2 linked regions of the Homo sapiens genome follow. The protein of the gene in region 1 purifies or fractionates together with the protein of each later gene. This does not show direct contact. Each region holds a gene or a part of one and is shown on either strand. Other genes may lie near its edges.

Region 1 (3,500 bases):
TCTCTTGGACACAGGTAGACAGTCAACTCCTACAGAGTGGCCACCAGCCACAGTGGAGAGGTACACACCAAGAACCAAACAACATAATGAGATGAGTTATTACACACTGCTGCTCATACTGGAACTCTGTGCTCTGCTGGAGTCTGCCCAGGGACACTGTGTCAGGAGGGTTCAGCCTGTGTTGATGGGCTGTTTTCACATCAACTGCCCTGCTGACAAGTCTCGCTGGAGTTGCATCCTGGGCCACCCTCAAGGATACAAACACCAGGCTCTCCCGGTCACTATTGCCTCTGAGTTCTTGCTCACTGCTACATTGCCCGTGTCTTCAGACTGCACATCCCAAAGGGCTTAGCTTCCCAGCTGGAAGTTGGTGGAGGGAGGAGGGCAGAGAAATGGAAGGACTGGAGCCAAAGACCTCACTGGACTCAGAGTTGCCTTTCCAGCTTTTTGGAGACAGCCTCATTCAGACAAGCTCTGGAGTTGGTCAAAGCTTGGTTCAAATCCTGACTCCACCACTTATTAACGAGGTGAGCTGGGCAAGTTGCTTAACCTGTAGGGACAGCAGCACCCTGAGGCTGGCTGGAGGTCTGAATGAAATGATGTGTGCACTAGTCTGGCCTAGAACAAATTCCTCAGTTAGTGAGAATTTCATGACTTTGTGCTGTAGTTTGGATGATTGTTTCCTCCAAATCTCATGTTGAAATTTGATCCCCAGTGCTGGAGGTGGGGCCTAATGGGAAGTGTTGGGTCATGGGGTGGATCCCTCAGGAGTGAGTGAGTTCTTAACTCTGTTAGTTCCCTAGAGAGCTGGTTGTTAAAAAGAGCCCAGCAAGAACCCCCTGCCCTTGCTTCTTCTCTTGCTATGTGATCTCTACACACCAGATCCCCTTTGCCCTCTGCCGTGAGTGGAAGCAGCCTGAGGCCCTCACCAGATGCTCAATCTTGAACCTTTTAGCCAGCAGAATCATGAGCTAAATAAACCTCTTTTCTTTTCGGTCTTTCTTTTTCTTTTCTTTCTTCTTTTTTTTCTTTGAGATGGAGTTTTCGCTCTGTTGCCCAGGCTAGAGTACAATGGCACAATCTCAGCTCACTGCAACCTCCACCTCCTGGGAAGCAGTTCTCTTGCCTCAGCCTCCTGAGTAGTTGGGATTACAGGCGCCTGCCACCACCTCCGGCTAATTTTTGTATTTTTAGTAGAGACGAGGTTTCACCATGTCGGCCAGGCTGGTCTCGAACTCTTGACCTCAGGTGATCCACCCGCCTCGGCCTCAGCCTCCCAAAGTGCCGGGATTAAAGGAATGAGCCACCGCAACCAGCCAAACCTCTTTTCTTTATCAATTAGCCAGCTTTAGGTATTCCTTTATAGCAACACAAAACGAACTAAGACACTTTGATTATTTGAGTCAGGTCCAAGAAGAACATTTAGATATTCAATAGGCAGACAACCTGGGCCAAAATTATAGGCTATCATAGTCTGTATAACCAGGTCTCTAGTGGGAGACAGTAAGATTATTTTTGACTTTTGTTACCTACACATTGTGCTTTGGTTACTGTCCCAGTGCAGTCGACTTTGGGGACGTGTAAGGATATCTGTGGAAGAAATTCCTAGAAGTGAAGCTGCTCAGTGAAAAGCCGTATGAAGTTATTCTAAAAGACACTAGAACAAGTTTTTAAAAAATGTTCTGTGAGCAAGTGCCTGCACACACATGAATTTCCTGGTAGCCAAGGAACTGACTGGACCAGTTTTATAACAACTTAATTGTCATGCTCAGTTACATTTGAGATGGGAATGAGAACACCCCAGTGGTCTCCTGGGGATTGCAGCTATCTTCATGACCGGGTGTTATTAGCCAAGACTGGGCTGCAGTTTGCCAGTCTGTGAAACTAGAGCTAGATCTCCATGGAGGGAAACCTGGCAGGGCCCTGGCCTTTAATCCCTGCTGAGAGATGGAGGATTACTCTGGAACTGGCTTGGAAGTTTCTGACAGTCTTATCAGGTACTTCAGCCTTGGGCTACATCTGTCAGAGCTAAGTCCTTATCTTCACGGAACATAGAAGACTTTTTTTTTTTTTTTCTGTTGCCCAGGCTGGAGTGCAGTGGCATGATCTCGACTCACTGCAGCCTCTGCCTCCCAGGTTCCGGCAATTCTGCTACCTCAGCCTCCCATGTACCTGGGATTACAGGCACGTGCCACCATGCCTGGCTAATTTTTTTTTTTTTTTTTTGTATTTTTAATAGAGATGGGGTTTCACCATGTTGGCCAGGCTGGTCTTGAACTCCTGATCTCAGGTGATCTGCCCACCTTGGCCTCCCAAAGTGCTGGGATTACAGGTATGAACCACTGCACCCAGCCTAGCAGACATTTTTCAAGTTGTAAACAATGCTTGGATCATCTTGCAGAAGCCCACCACAACCCGAATGGTGCCAAACCCTCAACATAACTTCTTCTAGCCTCACTGGCCTCTGCCTCTATGGGAAATACAACTCAAGTTCCAGGCAGGAACCTGGAATACTGGTGGGAAGGTATGTCCCACTGGCATCTTCCCCTCCTTGCCCTAGTTGCTAGAGACTGGAAACAACCCAAATGCTCATCATTAGAATGTGGAGAGAAAAACACAAGGATCAGAACAGTACATATGGCATGCAACCTTTTGGCAAAATAAAATGAAATAGGGATGGTATATAAATACACACTTGCATATTCATAGATTACTTCTGGAATAGTGCACAAATACTGGTAATAGTGGTTGCCTATGGGAACAGAACCAGATTCAAGGGTAGGAGAACGACTTTTTACATTTTGTTTTACTTTATTGTGTGCTTCATATATTATTTATCTAAATGTAAAAATATTTTTCAGCTCTACTGAGATATAATGTACATACCATCAAATTCACCAGTATCAATTGTATAATTCAATGGGTCCTGTCAAATGCATGGTATAACATTTCCATCACCCTGCGAAGTTCCTCCAGATTCCTTTGTAATAAATCCATACCTCTTAGCCCCTGGCAACCACTGATTTGCCTTCTGTCACCGTAGTTTTGCCTCTAAGATATTTTAAAAATAAAAACAATTTAAAGCCAGGTATGAATATAGCCCTTACTATTTTTGTTGCATTAAAACAAATTTCTCAAGTATAGACCCCGTCTTCAAAAAAGCCTAAAGTTACTTCCTGCAAGAATGTGGTTGTGTAGAAGGGATGCAGTAGAAGTGTTAAGTTGCTAGGAACTGAGGAGTTGATGACCAAAAAACTGACTTCTCGACTTGGAGCAGCTTTTCATGAAGAGCAACTTGCTGTGATTTGTTTTGTTTTGTTTTTTCCCTATCTACTTTTAGGGCCTAGCACTGAGCAGGCCTAGAAAATTTGATTTATTATTTGATGGATAACTGGAGATCACCTATAAGAGCAAAGCAGAATATAGTGGAATGAGGATTAATGCTTCATCGCCCCAAATTTTCTAGCTAGTTTTGTTCCCATCCTCCTCCTTCTTCCTTA
Region 2 (3,500 bases), on another chromosome or scaffold:
ATCCCAGCTACTCGGGAGGCTGAGGCAGGAGAATTGCTTGAACCCAGGAGGTGGAGGTTGCGGTGAGCCGAGATGGTGCCATTGCACTCCAGCCTGGGCAACAAGAGCAAAACTCCGTCTCAAAAAAAGAAAAAAATCTGAAAGCTTCCTTCCCATTCCGGAACCCCAATAAGAAGTATGTGATAGCATATCAAAAGAAGAGTCATGTTTTTTCTTTTTTACTTCTTTGGTCAGACATGAATCATTATCTTAAAAAGAATTAATAGAAGTGGCGTCTCACTGTGTTGCTCAGGCTGGTCTCGAACTCCTGGACTCAATCAGTCCTCCCACCTCATCCTCTCAAAGAGCCGAGATTATAGGTATGAGCTACCGCACCTGGCCGAAGAATCATCTTTCAGCCATCTGTTTCGTTCTGTCTGATTCTCCCATGACAAGAACTTCTGTTGAGTCTGCTACTTTTCAAGCCTACCTTGATCTGTACTTTCTCTGAGTCATTGTGTAGGACAAAGGAGGACCACCGGCTGGGTGCGGTGGCTCACGTCTGTAATCCTAGCACTTCGGGAGGCCGAGGTGGGCGGATCATCTGAGGTTGGGAGAAAGAGACCAGCCTGACCAATGTGGAGAAACCCCATCTCTACTAAAAAATACAAAATTAGCTGGGCGTGGTGGCACATGCCTGTAATCCCAGCTACTTGGGAGGCTGAGGCAGGAGAATTGCTTGAACCCAGGGGGCGGAGGTTGCAGTGAGTCGAGATCACACCATTGCACTCCAGCCTGGGCAACAAGAGCAAAACTCCATCTCAAAAAAAAAGACCACTTTTGTCATGCCACTGCACTCCAGCCTGGGTGACAGAGCAAGACTTTGTCTCAAACAAACAAACAAAAAAACCCACCTTTTTCTGCATCCACTCCTTTTTTTTTTTTTTTTTAAAGCAGCTTTATTGAGGTATAGTTCACATACCATAAAATTCAACCTTTTAAGGCATACAATTCAGTGATTTTAGTATATTTACAAAGTTGCACAACCATCACCACTATCTAATTTCAGAACACTTTCATCACTCCCAAAAGAAATCCCATATCTGTTAGCAATCATTCTCCATCTCCCTCCTCCTCTCCTCCTCCCTTGGCAACCCCTAGTCTATTTTCTGTCTATGGATTTGCTTATTTTGGACATTTCACATCAATGGAATCATACGTGGCCTTTTGTGACTAGCTTCTTTTGCTTAATATGATGTCTTCAAGGTTCATCCATGTTGTAGCATGTATCAGGACTTCGTTTCTTTTCATAGGTAAATAATATATCCTTGTAGGGATATAACACATTCTGTTTATCCATTTATTCACTGATGGACATTTGGGTTATTTCCACTTTGTAGCTAATTTTGGAAAATATTACTATGAACATTTTTGTACAGGAATTTGTGTGGACATATGTTTTCATTTCTCTTGGGTGTATACCCAAGTGGAATTGTTGGGTCTTAGGGTAACTCTTAGATTTAACTTTTTAAATTAAAAAAATTTTTTTTTGAGGTAGAGTCTCACTCTGTCACCCAGGCTGGAGTGCAGTGATGTTATCTTGGCTCACTGCAGCCTCCGCCTCCTGGGTTCAAGAGATTCTCCTGCCTCAGCCTCCCGAGTAGCTGGGATTACAGGTGCCTGCCACCATGCCCGGCTGATTTTTGTATTTTTAGTAGAGACGGGGTTTCACCATGTTGGCCAGGCTGGTCTCCAACTCCTGACCTCAAGTGATCCAGCTGCTTTGGCCTTCCAAAGTGCCGGGATTACAGGCGTGAGCACTATGCCCGGCCTGTGTTTTTAACATTTTGAGGAACTACCAGTTGGTTGTACAAAGTGGCTGCACCATCCTGTATCCACTTGACCTCCATAGTCACTCACAGGAGCATTTTTCGAATCAAATACACATTTCACAGTTTTCTAGTTTGTTAGAATTTTAAGTTGAATTTTTCCTAGTCTAGGTGCAAACCGGCATTTCATCCAACCAATTCCTTCCTTTGCCATTGTCTCTCATATAATTTCTACTCTGGACTTTAGACTTTGAGTTGAAAGGAACTTTGAAAGTTCTTTCCTCTATACTTTAAATAGCCTTCCCTGTAAAACAGACATTTCCTCATATGTTCTTGTGTGTTGATCATTCAGCCTCTGTTTGAACTCTGCTGCTGTGGGGCTCTTGGTAGCTCACAGAGCAACCCTTTTCTTAAAAACATTGAGCCTTTGGTCAGCTTTCCTGAGGACTAAATTTTATCACGCCTTTGTATTTTTGCAGGCATCCAAGCCTACAGTCTGTTGTTTTTACCACCTCACACATTAAGAGAGACTGAGAGCACTGAGGCCTAGGCCTTGATTTCTGTAGATTTCTTAGGAAATCTGAGCCTAGCACAGGGCTACACATGCAGTGTTTGGGGGACAGCCACCCAGACACATGCAGAGTCAATATCCTGGTTCCAGGAGCAGGGCTTAACTTAATGAAAGGGACTGGAAAAAACACGAGAATTTTCAAACTACAACTAGTTTAGAAAAGTGACATTTTTCTTTTTTTTTTTTTGAGACAGGATCTTGCTCTGTTGCCCAGGCTGGAGTGCAGTGGCACAATCACAGCTCACTGCAGCCTCAACCTCCCTTGGCTTAAACTATCCTTCCACCTCAGCCTCCTGAGTAGGTGTGCACACCGCCATGCCTGGCTAATTTTAAAATTTTTGTAGAGACGGGATCTTCCTATGTTGCCCAGGCTGGTCTCGAACTTTTGGGCTCAAGCATTCTGCCCTTTTTGGCCCTCCAAAGTGCTGCGATTATAGGCGTGAGCCACCATGTCCAGCTGACATTTCTTCATTCATTACATTTTTGTTATGCTAGTTGGCTAAAAATGTGCTTTGTTAAAAAGTAAATTATTTTTTCTAGTCCTTTGATTTTATTTAACTATTCCTCAATTACCCAATCTTCAAACATATAAAATGCTTAGAAATATGTCTTTAGATTCAAAGTGAATTTTAAAACTCAGTAAAAATGAATATCTTCTTTGTTTACATACTTAAAGTATAGCAAAGAAATTTTTATTCAAGCTGGAGTGCAGTGGCACGATCTCAGCTCACTGCAATCTCCGTCCTCCCAAGGTTCAAGCGATCTGCCCATTTCAGCCCCCTGAATAGCTGGAACTACAGACACACACCACCATGCCTGGCTTTTTTTTTTTTTTTTTTGGTAGAGATGGGGTTTTACCATATTGCCCAGATTGGTCTCAAACTCCTGGACTCAAGCAATCTCCCTGCCTCAGCCTCCCAAAGTGCTAGGATTACAAGCATGAGCCACCATGCTCAGCCTAACATTTTTCTTTCTTTTTTTTTTTGAGACAGTGTCTCGCTCTGTCACCCAGGCTGGTGTGCAATGGCGTGATCTTGGCTCACTGCAAGCTCCTTCTCCCAGGTTCATGCCATTCTCCTGCCTCAGCCTCCTGAGTAGCTGGAACTACAGGTGCCTGCCAC

Evidence for each region. Proteins that work in one complex are often made in the same cells at the same time.
Region 2: the proteins of CDCP1 (region 1) and CLSTN1 purify together in Homo sapiens (affinity purification with mass spectrometry; one large-scale study listed by BioGRID and IntAct). This does not show direct contact.

The regions. Positions count from the first base shown.
Region 1 is NC_000003.12:45,136,379-45,139,878, reverse strand, and holds part of CDCP1 (CUB domain-containing protein 1 isoform 1 precursor), read left to right. Parts: intron 1-3,500. UniProt on the Homo sapiens protein: May be involved in cell adhesion and cell matrix association. May play a role in the regulation of anchorage versus migration or proliferation versus differentiation via its phosphorylation.
Region 2 is NC_000001.11:9,813,966-9,817,465, reverse strand, and holds part of CLSTN1 (calsyntenin-1 isoform 1 precursor), read left to right. Parts: intron 1-3,500. UniProt on the Homo sapiens protein: Postsynaptic adhesion molecule that binds to presynaptic neurexins to mediate both excitatory and inhibitory synapse formation.